Linked DNA regions of Homo sapiens. The protein of the gene in region 1 interacts with the protein of each later gene in a pairwise test. Each region holds a gene or a part of one and is shown in the gene's direction. Other genes may lie near its edges. The genes, in order: SPIN3 and SPINDOC.

What was found.
Region 2: the proteins of SPIN3 (region 1) and SPINDOC interact in binary tests that used the Homo sapiens proteins (3 or more experiments, as listed by UniProt).

What each region holds. Positions count from the first base shown.
Region 1 is NC_000023.11:56,991,895-57,000,600, reverse strand, and holds the start of SPIN3 (spindlin-3), read left to right. Parts: upstream 1-5,059; 5' UTR 5,060-5,385; exon of another isoform or gene 5,386-5,542; intron 5,543-5,651; 5' UTR 5,652-5,653; coding exon 5,654-6,430; 3' UTR 6,431-8,706. UniProt on the Homo sapiens protein: Exhibits H3K4me3-binding activity.
Region 2 is NC_000011.10:63,808,122-63,816,938, forward strand, and holds the start of SPINDOC (spindlin interactor and repressor of chromatin-binding protein), read left to right. Parts: upstream 1-5,334; 5' UTR 5,335-5,565; coding exon 5,566-5,692; intron 5,693-8,817. UniProt on the Homo sapiens protein: Chromatin protein that stabilizes SPIN1 and enhances its association with histone H3 trimethylated at both 'Lys-4' and 'Lys-9' (H3K4me3K9me3).

The sequences.
Region 1 (8,706 bases):
TAATAAAAATAATACACCTCAATAGGATGAAGGGAAAAAAATGATTATCTCAATTGACACAAGAAAGCATTTGACAAAATCCAACACCCTCTAATAATAATAATAATAAACCTGTCAACAAACTAGGAATAGAAGGGAACTTCTTCAAGATAAGAGACATATATGCATTAAAAAAAGAGCTAAATTCACATTCAACAGGGAAAGGCTGAAACCTCTCCCCCTAAGTATAAGAAGAGGACAAGAATGCCCCCTCACTATTTCCATTCAGCATTGTACTGCAGTAGGTTCTAGACAGGGCAATCAAGTAAGAAAATAAGTAAATAAAAGTTATCCATATTAGGAAAATGTAAAACTATCTTTATTTACTGATAATACCATTGTATATAGAGATGATCCCAAAGAATCCATTAGTAACTACTGAAATGATTAAAAGGATTCAGTCAAATTTCAGGACATGCTATGGATTGAATGTTTGTGGCCCTGTCCCCTAAATGTATATGTTAAAGCCTAATCTCCAGTGTGATAATATTTGAAGATGGAGCCTTTGGGAGATAATTAGGTCATGAGGGTAGAGCCCCTATGGATGGGATTAATGCTCTTATAAGAAGTAGCCAGAGAGCTAGCTCTCTCTCTGCTCTCCACCATGTGAGGGTATAATGAGAAGATAGCCATTTGGAACCAGAAAGAGGGCCTATCCCCAGGGAACGAAATTGGCCTGTACTTCTTATCTTGGACTTATCTGGAGACCCAGTCTCCAGAACTGTGAGAAATATATGTTTATTGTTTCAGCCACTCATTCTATGGTAATTTGTTATAACAGCCTGAACTAAGACAAGATACAATATCAAGGCTTAAAAATCATGAGGGCTCAATCCCACAAGACTGCCCTGCACTTTAGATGCCAATTACAAGTTCCAGATTATGATCTGTACTTCTAACAGACCAACTATAAATCAGGGTTCTCATTCAATTAATTTGCTAGAGCAGCTCACAGAACTCAGGGAAACACTTTACTTACATTTACCCATTTATTGTAAAGGATATTACAAAAGATACAGATGAACACCCAGAAGGAAGAGATACATTGGGCAAGGTATGTGGAATGGGGTACCAAACTTCCATGCCCTGTTCAAGTGAGCCACCCTTCAGGAACCTCCACGTGTTCAGCTATCCCAAAGCTCTCTCTTTTTTTTTTAATTTTATTATTATTATACTTTAAGTTTTAGGGCACATGTGCACAATGTGCAGGTTAGTTACATATGTATACATGTGCCATGCTGGTGTGCTGCACCCATTAACTCGTCATTTAGCATTAGGTATATCTCCTAATGCTATCCCTCCCCCCTCCCCCCACCCCACAACAGTCTCCAGAGTGTGATGTTCCCCTTCCTGTGTCCATGTGTTCTCATTGTTCAATTCCCACCTATGAGTGAGAATATGCGGTGTTTGGTTTTTTGTTCTTGCGATAGTTTACTGAGAATGATGATTTCCAATTTCATCCATGTCCCTACAAAGGACATGAACTCATCATTTTTTATGGCTGCATAGTATTTCATGGTGTATATGTGCCACATTTTCTTAATCCAGTCTATCATTTTTGGACATTTGGGTTGGTTCCAAGTCTTTGCTATTGTGAATAGTGCCGCAATAAACATACATGTGCATGTGTCTTTATAGCAGCATGATTTATAGTCCTTTGGGTATATACCCAGTAATGGCATGGCTGGGTCAAATGGTATTTCTAGTTCTAGATCCCTGAGGAATCACCACACTGACTTCCACAAGGGTTGAACTAGTTTACAGTCCCACCAACAGTGTAAAAGTGTTCCTATTTCTCCACATCCTCTCTAGCACCTGTTGTTTCCTGACTTTTTAATGATTGCCATTCTAACTGGTGTGAGATGGTATCTCATTGTGGTTTTGATTTGCATTTCTCTGATGGCCAGTGATGGTGAGCATTTTTTCATGTGTTTTTTTGGCTGCATAAATGTCTTCTTTTGAGAAGTGTCTGTTCATGTCCTTTGCCCACTTTTTGATGGGGTTGTTTGTTTTTTTCTTGTAAATTTGTTTGAGTTCATTGTAGATTCTGGATATTAGCCCTTTGTCAGATGAGTAGGTTGCGAAAATTTTCTCCCATTCTGTAGGTTGCCTGTTCACTCTGATGGTAGTTTCTTTTGCTGTGCAGAAGCTCTTTAGTTTAATTAGATCCCATTTGTCAATTTTGGCTTCTGTTGCCATTGCTTTTGGTGTTTTAGACATGAAGTCCTTGCCCATGCCTGTGTCCTGAATGGTAATGGCTAGGTTTTCTTCTAGGGTTTTTATGGTTTTTAGGTCTAACATTTAAGTCTTTAATCCATCTTGAATTAATTTTTGTATAAGGTGTAAAGAAGGGATCCAGTTTCAGCTTTCTACATATGGCTAGCCAGTTTTCCCAGCACCTTTTATTAAATAGGGAATCCTTTCCCCATTGCTTGTTTTTGTCAGGTTTGTCAAAGATCATATAGTTCTAGATATGCTTCCAAAGCTCTCTTAACCTTGTTATTTTGGGTTCTTATGAAGGCTTCATTATGTAGACATCATGAGCCATTGGTGATCGATTCAACCTTTAACTCCTCTCTGCTCCAATCTTCTAATCATGCCCTGGTCTTTGCCGTGAACAGCCCACATCCTGAAGCTATCTAGGGGCTGCCAATCATCAGTCATCTTATTAGCATACAAAAGACACTCTTATCTCTCAGGATACTTCAAGGGTTTTAGGGGCTGTATGCCAGAAAAGGAGATCAAAGAGCAAATATATATTTCACAATATCACAGTAAACAATTCCATTTACCATAGCGTCAAAAATAATAAAATAACTTAGAAATAAATCTAACCAAAACTATAAAACATTGCTGAAATAATTTAAAGAAGATCTAAATAAATTGCAAGATACCCAGTGTTCATAGGAAACTCTGTTTGTGGGAAATTATGCCCTCTGGAAACTCTGTGTTCATGGATTGTAAGACAATATTGTTGAGATAACAATACTTCCCAAGTTTATCTGCAGAGTCAGTGCAACCCTTATCAAAATCCCAACAGTCCTTTTGTTCAGAAAAGGAAAAGACAATCCTAAAATTCATATGAAATTGAAAGGAACTATGAAATTAGCTGAGCATGGTGGTACATGCCTGTAACCCCAGATACTCAGGATGGTGAGACAGGAGAATCGCTTGAACCCGGGAGGTGGAGGTTGCAGTGAGCCGAGATTGTGCCACTGCACTCTAGCCTGGGCGACAGAGCAAGACTCTGTCTCAAAAAAAAAAAAAAAAAAAAAAAAAAAAAAGGAGCATGAGTAGCCAATACAATCTTAATAATATTTTCAGAGAAATCACACTTACTGATTTCAAACATACTGCACAGTTACAGTAATCAAAAAATAAATGTGGTTCTTGCATAAAGATAAATTAAAAACGTGGTTTTTGCATAAAATTCTATGAAATAGAATTAAGAGTCCAGATATAAGCCTATACATCTGTACTAAATTGATTTTCAACAAGTATGCCAAGACAATTAAAAAGGCTAAGAATTGTCTCTTCAACAGAAGGTGCTGAGACAACTGGATATCCATGTGCAAAACAATGAATTTGGTCCCCTTCATCACACCATACATAATAATTAACTCAAAATGGGTCAAAGACATAAATATAAGAGCTAAAAACAAACAAAATTTTACAAGAAAATATAGGGGTACATTTTCATGAACTTGGATTTGGCAGTGTTTATTTAGGTGTGACTCCAAACGCACAACCAAGTTTTAAGCTTTTGTGCATCAAAAATACTATCAAGAAAGTGAAGACACCCCACAAAACGGGATAAAATATTTTCATATCATATATCTGATAAGGTTCTCTCATCCAGAATTTAAAAAGAACAATTAACAGCCCTGCTACAAACAATTCATTTAAAAAATGAACAAAGCACTTGAAATAGACATTTCTCCAAAGATACACAAATGTCCAACAAGCACACAAAAAGATGCTCATCCTCATTAGTCATTAGAGAAATGCAAATTAAAACCACAATTAGGTACCACTTCATACCCACTAGGATGGCTGTAACGATAAAACTGATTGAATCACTTCTAAAATGTCTTTCTCCACAGATTTATGATCTCACAAATTCCTGTTTTAATTATAGCAATTGTTCTAAGTTTAGTGTCTAGGTTATTCTGTTCAAGTGAACAGAATAATTCATGCGCAAGCACAATTTATAGGTATTTAACAATTAAACGTCTGAAGATAGGAGGCAACGGCAAAATTATGAAAAATCCTAATGCTTAATTTTATGAAGCTACTACAAAACATGTTCTCAGAAAATATCTAAAAAATTGAGCAAATGTTTATTCTACATGGAAATGAGCAGGACATGAAAGTGCATATTCAAAATTATCCAAGCTTTGTAAGAGCTTAGAAAAAAGGAAAAGGAAATAGTGTTAATATTTCACTGTGAGCCCTGGAAAATGGGAGGCCGGCTTAGTTAATTATTTTCTCTTCATGTCAATTTTCTGAATTTTACAGTGTCAATATTGTGCATGCAATTCTTTTGCAATCAGGGGAAAAGAAAAGAAATCCTCAAGAAGTTAAGTCTGGGAATGACAAGTCAGTAAAAATTACGTAGATTGGGTCAAGATGGCAGCCTGAACACTGAGCAGTAGCGCATTTCTCTTGTCCTACCACAAATCCCCTTCAATGGAGGGTGGGGGGACGCGGGGAGGGAGGGGAAAGGAAAGGGCTAATTCCTGAAAGGTGGAAAGCAGAAGGGGCAGGGGCGCAGAGGGTTGAGGTTAGGTGAGGGGAGGGGCGCGTGCTAAACCAGAAGAGGTAAACCAATGCAGTGAGAGAGAGGTGGTTGTGGGCTCCACAGCTTCTGATTTGGAGGAAGCTGCGAGACCGAGAGCCTAGGAGCACCTTCCACGCCCAGGGCTGTGGTACAGGTTGGTGGGGGAGGGGCGCCACGCGGTGTTTGGCAGGAAGGGGAGGCCTCTCTACTGACCGGAAGCTGCGCTAGAAAAAGAAGGAGGAGACTGCGGCGCAGCAGCGACTAGTGGGAGTCCGATGTGGGAGAGGGGCTGCGGCCACCGCCACCGCCGCCGCCACCAGGAAGGCGGAGGACGCAGGAGCCAAGAGCAAGGGACGCCGCCACGGTCATCTTCGCCTGCCCCGCCGCCCTCTTAGAGACACTCATTGCCTATGGATCATCCTCTCCCAGCTTTTGCAAGCACCGGGCTGCTCGCCCGCTGATTTTCCTCCTCCATAGGCTCACTGCGGAGGCAACGGCGAGGTGTCCGATTTGTGCACTTGAGGCCCGCAATCCGGGACGGTGGGGAATCTGCGCCTCCTGGCCGGGTAGTGTTGGAAGCAGGGCGAGGGGAATGGGGAAACGCTTCGTATTTCACCGAACCGCAGATCTTAGCCAGACTGAGCTGGGGAGGAAGGTTACTGCAGGCACTCAGCCAGGGTGCCTTGATTTCCAGCTTTGCTATCTAGCTTTCGGGAAAAACAGGTGTGGGTTTACTGGGTGCGCTGATTAGGAGAAAAAGCTCTCCGTGTTATGCATTGATTTTGTTAATTTCCTTTCTCGGTCCACCTGGCAACTGTGCTCCTCTTCGCAGGCATGAAGACCCCGTTTGGAAAGGCAGCTGCAGGGCAGCGGTCCAGGACGGGCGCTGGCCACGGCAGTGTGTCTGTTACCATGATAAAGAGGAAGGCTGCACACAAGAAGCATAGGAGCCGACCCACCTCCCAGCCTCGGGGGAACATCGTGGGCTGCAGAATTCAGCACGGATGGAAAGATGGAGATGAACCTCTAACACAGTGGAAAGGAACCGTTCTGGATCAGGTACCTGTAAATCCCTCTCTGTATCTTATCAAATATGATGGATTTGACTGTGTTTATGGATTGGAACTTCACAGAGATGAAAGAGTGTCATCACTTGAAGTCCTTCCTAATAGAGTTGCATCATCTAGAATCAGTGATACACACTTGGCAGAAATAATGGTTGGCAAAGCAGTGGAACATATTTTTGAGACAGAGGAAGGTTCCAAAAATGAATGGAGGGGGATGGTCTTAGCTCAGGCACCTGTCATGAACACATGGTTTTACATTACCTATGAGAAAGATCCTGTATTATATATGTACCAGCTCTTAGATGATTATAAAGATGGTGACCTCCGCATCCTTCAAGATTCCAATGATTCTCCTCTGGCAGAGAGGGAGCCAGGAGAAGTCATAGACAGCCTGGTAGGCAAACAGGTGGAATACGCCAAAGACGATGGCTCCAAGAGAACTGGCATGGTCATTCATCAGGTAGAAGCAAAACCCTCTGTGTACTTCATCAAATTTGATGATGATTTCCATATCTATGTCTACGATTTGGTAAAAACATCTTAGAGGTCATCTTGAAATTTGCCAAATATATGAGACTCTAAATCTGTAGACACAGAAAGTCTTGATTGCTTTCCAGTTTGTAAGAACCATCTTCTCCCTTTTTGCACGTTTTGCTTGGCAAAAAAATTGGAACTTCTGCCCTCTCATACGTTTTTGGAAGAAACCTTTTGCCCATCTGTCCAACCTTTTCACTGGTTCCTCTCCGCAATTTAACTGATTAGTGAGAAGGGTAAAGTCTGACATCCATTGGCTCATACTTTTTTTTATCTTGGGTGGTGTTAATAGATTAAAGGTAGCTGAACACCTCTCACCTCACTCTTTTTGGCACTTGGACTCTACACTCATTGAGGTGTGAAGCTTGCTGAGATATCCCATGTGACTGGCTGGGTAAGTGTCTTTGCAATCTCAAATCTCCCCCAAGTGGCTTCAAAAATCTAACTTGGGAAAGAGTGGGAAGCCCATTTTGGTCTCTTGTTCAAGTTGCATTCTCAGTTCTAACTGTACTAAAAGTAAGGCTAATAATTTTGCTCTCTTTCCGGTTCTTTCACCTATTGCTCAACTGTTTTAGAATTAAGAAGGTAATTACTTTGCATTTTAGTACCTAACCATAGGCTGAGAAACCTTGCAAAACTGATAAGAAGACAAGCATTTGGGGACCAAACTCCAAGTGGAGAGATCAAGATTTCTGGTGGAGCTTAAGTGAAAGGTTTTAGTCATCAGTGGCATTAGGGTCTCTCTTGTCTCCAATAGCTCTGGCTGGTATCTGCAGACATGGAGTAGGTTTTAACTGATAGAAGCTGTGCAGGCAGACTTTAGCACAAATGGTCTTTGCCAGCCCAGAGGAGCATTAAGCCAGGCTCTAGCTAGAGCCCTCAGTCACAGGCAAAGGCTGGGTTTGGCTGGGTTTGGACAGATCTGTCCAGAACCTCAAAATGAAAGAGGAGAAACCTAGAATCAAACTGAGATACAGATTTCTTTGCTGTGCTAAGAGAGACTCAAGTTTTAGATTTGATTCTTAGGAGACTGAATTCAGAGTCCCAGCATGTGAGGTGGGCAAGGCACTTGTGAGAACCAAGAATGGCTGAAAGCAGGCTATACTTCCTTGCAGGGACTGGTGGGCTCATCTATTATGGTATCCCAGCAGGACTTGGAACACAGTCAGTGGTAGGTAATCTGTAGGCTTAATGATGTTTTAAGTGCTGGCATTGGTAGATAGAAATCTAATAGATTTTTGTTAGTGTTTGGATTTTTAACTATCCTGTTTCTTGGCTGGCCCTAAGAAACTTATATGCAGATAAGGGTGAGTTCTACTGTGGCAGAAAAGTAAACAATGGAAGGGCCTTTGAGCTTTCCATTATTAAAGAGCCATTGGCGGAGGTTAACCAAAGCCTAGGAAAGAAAAGTTGAAGTACAAGCATGGTTTTTGAGAGAAGCACCTGGCCAAAACCAAAGCTTTCTCATTGAGGTTCTCACAGAAGCTCCATTAGCAGTAACAGCCTAATAAGGCCATGGAGTTCTGCACATTTGGGGCTGGGACTCAAGGCAGTACAATCATATTGGGACTGTACTGCAAGATATCTTCCAAATTAGTTTAAGTTCACAGGTCATGGAGTCCAGACTACCGGCACAGATTGGCATCCTGCTGAGGATGAAACAAAGAAGATGTTCTCTTTTCTCCTATGTTTTATCTGTCTACTTTTGCTTTTTGATGCCACTAAGTCTCTACTATGATGTTTGACTGACAACAGCAATGTGGGTCTGTATTGCCCTATGTTCTAAGTCCTGGGGTCATATATTTGCTTAAAAAAACTGTTCTAGTGGCTGGGGACTAGTGTGCTTTCTAATTTTTTTGATGTGAGGTTGATATTGTGATAATCTTATGTCTTCTTGACCCTTTGGACTCTTTAATATGTATGACATGCAATTGTGGGGTTAGATTAATTCAACTCCTGAGGTCCTGAAGGAACTTCACCCAGTCAAGAGGAAGACAGCCAAGGCTGCAGCTGCTGAAGGAACCCCATATCTGGGCAGACATCTTTGTGAGATCTATATGGCTGAAATGAGAAAAACGAGAAATTGGGAAAGGCAGAATTTTGGACTTTAATTATTTTGGACTTTGAATTAGAAATTTAATTTTGGGCAGTCCTTTTTCCCTTGGAGTTTAATAGTTGATGGGGTGGGGGTGAGGTCATATAGTTCAAACTAAGGCATTTTTATTATGTTGTTGATATTGTATTATTTGGAGTATTTTAATGCTATCTTTGGGAGTCATTGTATAA
Region 2 (8,817 bases), on another chromosome or scaffold:
ACCAAGGCAGTCGGATCACTTGAGATCAGGAGTTCGAGATTAGCTTGGCCAACATGGTGAAACCCCATCTCTACTAAAAATACAAAAAATTAGCCGGGTGTGATGGCGGACGCCTGTAATCACAGGTACTCAGGAGGCTGAGATGGGAGAGTCACTGAAACCTGGGAGATGGAGGTTGCAGTGAGCCGAGATCGTGCCACTGTACTCCAGCCTGGGAGACAGAGTGAGACTCTGTCCCAACAACAACAAAAAAAAGAGCTCTTTTAGACTTGCAGATTTTTTTTCTTTTTTTTTTTTGAGACAGAGTCTTGCCCTGTCACCGAGGCAGGAGTGCCGAGGCAGGAGTGCAGTAGCACAATCACAGATCACTGCAACCTCCAACTCCCAGATTCAAGCGATTCTCATGCCTCAGACATCAAGGTAGCTGGGATTACAGGGGCACTCCACCACACCAAGCTAATTTTTTTTTTTTTTTTTTTGAGACGGAGTCTCACTCTGTCGCCCAGGCTGGAGTGCAGTGGCGTGAGATCGGCTCACTGCAAGCTCCACCTCCCAGGTTCATGCCATTCTCCTGCCTCAGCCTCCCAAGTAGCTGGGACTACAGGCGCCTGACACCACGCCCAGCTAATTTTTTGTATTTTTAGTAGAGATGGGGTTTCACCATGTTAGCCAGGATGGTCTCGATCTCCTGATCTCATGATCCACCCACCTCGGCCTCCCAAAGTGCTGGGATTACAAGCATGAGCCACCACGCCCGGCCTTTTTTTTTTTTGAGACAGAGTTTTGCTCTTGTTGCTCAGCCTGGAGTGCAATGGCCCAATCTCAGCTCACTGCAAGCTCCACCTCCTGGGTTCAAGTGATTCTCCTGCCTCAGCCTCCTGAGTAGCTGGGATTACAGGGGCCCACCACCAGACCCGACTGATTTTTTGTACTTTTAATAGAGATGGGGTTTCACCATGTTAGCCAGGACGGTCTCGAACTGCTGACCTCAGGTGATTCCCCTGCCTCGGCCTCTCAAAGTGCTGGGATTAGAGACATGAGCCACTGTGCCTGGCAATTTTTTTTTTTTTTTTTTTTTTGAGATGGAGTTTCCCTCTTGTTGCCCAGGCTGCAGTACAATGGCACAATCTCAGCTCACTGCAACCTGCGCCTCCTGGGTTCAGGCGATTCTCCTGCCTCTGCCTCCTGAGTAGCTGGGATTACAGGTGCCCGCCATCACACCCGACTAATTATTTGCATTTTTAGTAGAGACAGGGTTTCACCATGTTGGCCACGCTGGTCTCGAACTCCGAATCTCAGGTGATCCAACCGCCTTGACTTCCCAAAGTGCTGGGATTACAGGCGTGCGCCACCACGCCCAGCCATCCAGCTAATTTTTGTATTTTTTGTAGCAACTGGGTTTGGACATGTTAGCCAGGCTGGTTGCGAACTCCTGGCCTCCCGCCTTGACCTCCCAAAGTGCTGGGATTATAGGTGTGAGCCACTGCACCTGGCCCTAGATTTGTTGATATTTTAACATAGGTTTTCATGATATATCACTCTTCATATACATGAAAATGTAGGCAAAATAAATTGGTTGGGGTTGTCAAAGCCCTGTGACCAAGGACCACCAGGAACACACTTGTAACCAAAATTAGGTTTAATTTGCTGCAGTGAAGGAGAATACATCCCAGGGAAACCCTCAAGGCACCCTCAGGAAACTCCTTAAATTTGGCCTCGTTCCCATAGTTCTATGGAAGAATTAGGGAAATGGAACTGGTTCAGGATTGAATGCTGTCAAGAAACAGGGGCAGTTCAGAAACTGGGTATCTTTTTTTTTTTTTTTTTTGGAGATGGAGTCTCGCTCTGTCACCCAGGCTGGATTGCGGTGGCGCAATCTCGACTCACTACAACCTCTGCCTCCCGGGTTCAAGTGATCAGCCCGCCTTGGCCTCCCAAAGTGCTGAGATTACAGGTGTAAGCCACCACGCCCAGCCTGGACTACAGTAATTTTTGCTAAAGAGAAATAGCAATTGCTCCAAAAAAGGTGAAGTCAGGCCGGGCACAGTAGCGCACACCTACTTTCCAGCACTTTGGGAGGCTGAGGCAGGTGGATTGCTTGAGTCCAGCCTGGACAACATGGTGAAACCCCATCTCTAAAAAAAAAAAAATTCTTTTTTTAAAAAAAGGCAAAGTCGGCCAGGAGCAGCGGCTCACACCTATAATCCCAGCACTTTGGGAGGCCGAGACAAGCGGATCACCTGAGGTCGGAGTTCGAGACCAGCCTGACCAACATGGAGAAACCCCGTCTCTACTAAAAATACAAAATTAGCCAGGTGTGATGGCGCATGCCTGTAATCCCAGCTACTCGGCAGGCTGAGGCAGGAGAATCTTGAACCTGGGAGGCGGAGGTTGTAGTGAGCTGAGATTGCGCCATTGCATTCCAGCCTGGGCAACAAGAACAAAACTCCGTTTTAAAAAAAAAAAAAAAGGCCGGAAGCAGTAGCTCGCGCCTGTAATCCCAGCACTTTGAGAGGCCGAGGCAGGAGGATCACAAGGTCAGAGTTCAAGACCAGCCTGGACAAGATGGTGAAACCCTGACTCTACTAAAAATACAAAAATTAGCCAAGTGTGGTGGCAGGCGCCTGTAATCCCAGCTGCTTGGGAGGCTGAGGCAGAGAATTGCTTGAGCCCGGGAGGCGGAGGTTGCAGTGAGCCGAGATTGCACCACTGCGCTCCAGGTTGGGTGACAGAGTGAGACTCCATTTCAAAAAAAAAAAAAAAAAAAAAGGCGAAGTCACTTTGTGGTCATGAAGTGGCTTCATCTATGTCTCATTCTAAACATAGCTTACTTTCTGCTGGTAACAGCACAGTCTGAATGCCAGAAAAGCCATCTTTCACTTTCTTGATAGTCCTAAACTTCAGTCCTAAACTTCACGTTGATGTTGATTATAGAAAGCATCACCATTTGAGGGATATTAAAATGTGGGGGAAATATTCACTCTAGGTTGGATGAAATAAGATTCTTGCTGTATTACCTTGGGCAAGTAATCTAACCCTTTAAGCTTCAACTTCTTGCTCTATAAGCTGAGAATAATATGACCTAAAAGAAATAATGTCTACTAATTGGGTGGTACAATACTGGGTGTATCACTCAAGGTTCAACCAGGAAAATAGGAACCACTTTTTTTTTGAGACAATCTAGCTCTGTCGCCCAGGCTGGAGTCAAGTGCAGCGGCATGATCTTGGCTCACTGCAACCTCCGCCTCCTGGGCTCAAGCAATCTTCCTGACTCAACCTCGTAAGTAGCTGGGATTACAGGCACACACCACCATGCCGGGCTAATTTCTTTTTTCTTTTTTCTTATGGTAGAGACAGGGTTTCACCATGTTGGCCAGGCTGGTCTCGAACTCCTGACCTCAAGTGATCCACCTGCCTTGGCCTCCCAAACTGCTGGGATTACAGTTGGGAGCCACTGCGCCCCGCCAGGAGGGAACCACTTTAAGTATTGAAAACAGAGAGAATGTAATGCAGGGTTTTGGTGACACGATTAACAGGGGTTAACAGGGAGGTCTGGAAAGCCCAGCAGGGGACAGAGAGAGGCAGTACAGAGACTGGCAAAAGCAAGAAGCTGCCTACAACTCCTAACCTGCAGGGACAAAAAGAGGAGGTGGACTGAGTAGAGCCCAGGGGCATGGATCATCCTACAGATGTTGGGACCACAGCTACCTATCCATGAGCTGGAGCCACAGAGAGGCCTCATCTGCTGCTGGAGATGTCACCTGAGCCTGAGCAAGAGAGAGAAAGAGAAGAAATACCATGGCTCTTTCTTTCCTCCTGCCTTCTCTTCTCCTGCCACTGCCTCCCATTGGCTAAACCGAGGCCTGAAGCCAGATGCTCTGGGAGCCTGAGAAACTGCCCCCCGCAAGACTCAGCCCACTGCAATACAGAGCAGAGCAGAGGGGCACGGAAGGGATCTGTAGCAAATGGTAGAGAATGACCATTCAGCAGAAATAGTTAAACAGGCTTGGTAATACCTTTGTTGTAAAACCTTTAAAATATCAGATACACTTGCACATAACAAAATAATTCCCTTAAAAATAGACTGCAAGGCCAGGCGCGGTGGCTCACGCCTGTAATCCCACTTTGGGAGGCCGAGGCAGACGGATGATGAGGTCAAGAGATCAAGACCATCCTGGCCAACATGCTGAAACCCCGTCTCTACTAAAAATACAAAAATTAGCCGGGCATGGTGGCACGTGCCTGTAGTCCCAGCTACCCAGGAGGCTGAGGCGGGAGAATAGCTTGAACCTGGGAGGCGGAGGTTGTGGTGAGCCGAGATAGCGCCACTGCACTCCAGCCTGGTGACAGAGCGAGACTCTGTCTCAAAAAAAAAAAAATTAAAAAATTGACTGCAATCCATATAGACTAGTTCACACCTCTTCTCACACCCCCATCCTACTACGCGATTCTGAATACTACTGTGTCTGGTCTGATATAACGACATTCGAAGATGGATTTTCAGTGTCAGACATTTTGCATTTTCTGAGCTGAAATCTCATGAGGGTTGCTATAGAAGAGGGAGATGCACATTCCATGTCACAGAAGTAAAAGCTCACCCAGAGTGTGGTTATAGGGCAGCAATGTCATGGCAACTGGACTCTGGTCTTGGGGCTCTCAAGGGATTGCTGTGTGTCCTTGGAGAGGGTCACAAAATCTCCGGACTCCCGTGCCAAAAATGGAAATCATACCCATCAGGGTGGTTTATGTCCGCTCACAGTCCACTCTGCTTCTCTTCTTTGCCTTCCCAGAAGGGTCCAAAATGGTTTTTGAAAGAAACGATGAGCCGGACTAAGAAAACAGATAATGTGCCCACGGCCACGGAGCTGGCAGATGAGAAGGAATTCGGTCTCTGCGTTTCCATACCAAGGCCCTTTCCACTCACCCACCGCTTCTCTTCCTGCCCGGGGCATCTGCTGGCGGAGGAAGGCTTGTCCACGGAAAGGCAAAAGCGACTCCCGATCAAAATCCGGGGGCACCTGGTAGCGCTCTCCACGCCAGCAGAAACGCCCAACTGACTTCTTAATGGAGGGAAACCCCGGGCTTGGCCCGCAGACTGAGGGGCCCGCGTTGCGGGTTTTGGGGGCCCCTCTGCCTCTGCGCACCGGGTGGCCCCGGGTCCCCTCGGCCCTTCCCGCCGCCTCCCGGGTCCAGGGTTTCTAACGGGGCCGCGTGCCCGGGGCGGGGCCACGCGCGATTGGCCGCGCGGCATCGGGGGCGGGTCCGCGGCTGGCCGGCCGGGCGGGCGCCGACAATGAGCCTCCATAAAAGGGAGCGGCGGGGGGCAGGGGCCCCGGATTGAGCCCTCCCCGCCCGGGCTCCCGACGCGCCGAGGTCTCGGGGAGGCCCGGACGCGCCGGTCGCAGGCCCGGCCGGCGAGCGGCGGGCGGGCGGCGGGGAGGGGGCTGCGCGGGGCGGGCGGCGGGCCCGGCGCTATTCCGGCCAGGAGGCGGGAGGCGGTTGCCGGCTGCGCGCCGAAGCCTGCGCGCCAGTCCTCCGGCCACTGCTATCGCCCACGGCCGCACCATGGCCCTAAAGGCCGAGGGCGCCGCACTCGACTGCTTCGAGGTGACGCTGAAATGCGAGGAAGGGGAGGACGAGGAGGAGGCCATGGTGGTGGCCGTAATTCCGCGGCCCGAGCCGATGCTCAGAGGTGAGGATGGAGGGGATTCCACTTCCGCGTCACGGTGCGGGGCCGGGGCTGGGGCCGTCCCTCCCCAGTCGGGGTCCGGGACCCGGGCACCTTCTCACCCCCTTCAGCCTTGGGGCCCAGGTTTCCCTCTCGGATCTGGGTCCAGGGCGCGCTCTTGCACCTCCCCCACCATGGTTTAGAAGCTCAGGCCTCCTCGATTTCCCCCTCCCTTCCCCTTTCCCCCGCCCAGGGTCTGGAGACTTCGATCCACGCCCCGCACGCTCCGGATCTTCCGGTGCCCAAGCGCCCCCTCTCCCGGGCCCAGCACCAGAGGCCGGATCCCCAGAGGCGCTGGGTGGTTGCGGCCGCCGTCTCACAGCCTGGGAAGGGGAGGCAAGCACAACGGCCGGGCTGTGTTCTAGTCCGAGGGGCGGCGAAGCCTCTAGGCCGGAGGCTACAGGCGGGCGCCGCTGCCGACCTCCAGGAGAATTTTAAGGGCTCTCCGAGCATAACGCTTCCCTGCCCACCACCCCGCTTCATTCCCATTCCCGGGCCTTCCACTTGCAGGAGCCACAGGTGTCAAGTTCTGGAGAGAAGGGATGAATGGGACTGCATACAACAGCTAGTTTGGAAAAGCAGTGCAGTGCTAGAACGAGATTAGCTTTGGGAGGGGATGGGAGGAACAATCTCAGAACACTCGCTCTCCCCTCCCCCTTCACCGATTTCTAGTCCTCAGGAGCTTGCAAACCGTAAGAAAACAAAGAGCCATCTTTGTGGGAGACTTAATATGCATGAAAATGCAAATATATTTCCATTCTCCCACCCCGCTTTTCTTAGGCGGGATAGTACCCAAAAGAGGTTGAGAGCAGCAATGCCATTCATTGAACTTCAGCCGAACAGAATGATGTCTGCCTGCACTGCCTGTCATCCTTTTTGGAACTGGAAGGGTTATAAAATTCATGAGGGAAATAAAGGTCACCTCCCTTCTCGGAGCATTTAGTCCAAAAGATAGGTTGTTTTCCTACTTCTGCTAATATTTGTTGAGTGTTCATTGGGCATTGTCAGAGGCTGTCTCAGTTAATCCTCTCAACCCTGCAAGGGTGGCCTTATCCCCACTGTTAGGGCAGGAATAGACAGGTGAATTCATTCAACCAATATTCACTGGACGTCTACTTTAGGCTGTTTAGGCTAGTGTTTTTAGGCTGGGAAGTAGTAGTAAACAGAGCAACCGAAACCCTGCTCTTGAAGAACATATATATACCAATGGCTAAAGACAGAGAAATAGGTTCATGTATAGTATGTTGGGTGGCAATAAATGGTTCAGAGATCACTAAAGCAGGAAAAGGAGAAAGAGGAGGAATGGGTATTTAATTGAATATATCGAGTGGTTCAGAAAGGGTTTTCTAATAAGGTGAATTTTGAGCACAGACCCGAAGGAAGTGAGGATGCCAACCTTGCAGATATCTGCAGGAAGAGCATTTCAGGCCGAATAGCAAGTGCAAAGGTCCGGCAGCACAAGCTTCTGGAAAGATTTCGGTGGAGAGAGGAAGAAAGATTGAATTCAAGGTTTTTGGCCTGAGCAACTGGAGGAAGAGCCTTCCCATTTTCCGAGATGGGGAAGGCTGCGGTGCTCTTGGGAGACTGGGAGTGAAAGTTTGAATATGATTACGTTTGAGATGCCTATTTATGACATATTCAGGTGGAGAGGTCAACTAAGCAGTCAGATACATGGGCCTAGATTTCCTGGAAGTATCTAGCTAGTGGCGTAAACAGAAATTGCCAGCAGGCAGACAGTGGGAAGAGAAGGAAGTAGAGAAGTGTCTAAGGACTGAGTCCTGGGAAACTCCAGTGATGGCAGGTTGGAGACCGAGTCAGTCCCTCATCACACATTACTAAATGCCACTGCATGCGAGGAGATACAGATACAGATGCTGGAGATACAGATGCAAAACATCAGAAATCTGTATGGTCATGGATTTTTTTTTTTTTTTTGAGACGGAGTTTTGCTCTTTTTGCCCAAGCTGTAGTGCAATGGCACAATCTCGGCTCACTGCAACCTTCGCCTCCCGGGTTCAAGTGATTCTTCTGCCTCAACCTCCCGAGTAACTGGGATTATAGGCATGTGCCACCACGCCCAGCTAATTTTGTATTTTTAATAGAGATAGGGTTTCCCCATGTTGGTGGGGTTGGTCTTGAACTCTCAACCTCAGGTGATCCGCCCACCTCGGCCTCCCAAAGTGCTAGGATTCAGGCGTGAGCCACCGCACCTGGCCGTGGTCATGGATGCTATGGTGTGGTAAGGAGACAGGCAGTGAACATCCCAAAAACAAGTGCCAGGTGGTGATGTGTGCTGTGTTGGAGGTGATGCATAAGGGGAATGGGGTGCTCTAGTGAGGGGAGATGGTCTTCAGCAACAAGCCAGAGGAAGGGAGGGAATATTGAGAAGAGATGAGGAAGAACTAGCACACATAACTGAGAAAGAGGGCCAGGGAAGCAAAAGAAGAACCAACAGAAGGTCATGCCCTAGACGCAAGTGATGAAAATCAAGATGGAAGAGGTGATCGGCAGAGGATGAAGTTGAGAAACTGACCGCAGAGTTTAGCACTGCTGACTTGGATGAGAGCTGTTTTGGAAGACTAGTAGGGAAGAAAGCTGATTGCAACTGAGAGGTCATTTCTGCCCATGGTCGCATGAGAGATAGGTACAAGACATATCTCGTATCTCTTTCAGACACCACCTCTTGTATCCATGCAAGCCGAGGCTCCTATTTCTCATACCACCTCTTCCATGCAGCCCCCAGGTATTAGGGCCTCCTGTGTTTTAATTTTGTCCCATCCTCTCTGGAAGGTAGGAGGGAGATGCAGCCGTGAAGGATCATGGGCACTTCGTAAAAGCACTGAGCTTCCAGGCTGATGCAGGTCTAAGGCTGCCTTCTTTGCTGAACTGGAAAGGGTGATGCCCTGTGAAAGCTTATGGTCTGTCTGTGTACACAAAGAGCAGGTATCAGGCAGCAATAGGAGTGGGACCATGGCTGTAAATGCTCTGTGAGCACTGAGAAGGGAGGCGAGTTCTGAGGGGATGGGGTGGCCTTTAGAACGGGCATGGTGGCTCATGCCTATAATCCCAGCACTTTGGGAGGCTGAAGC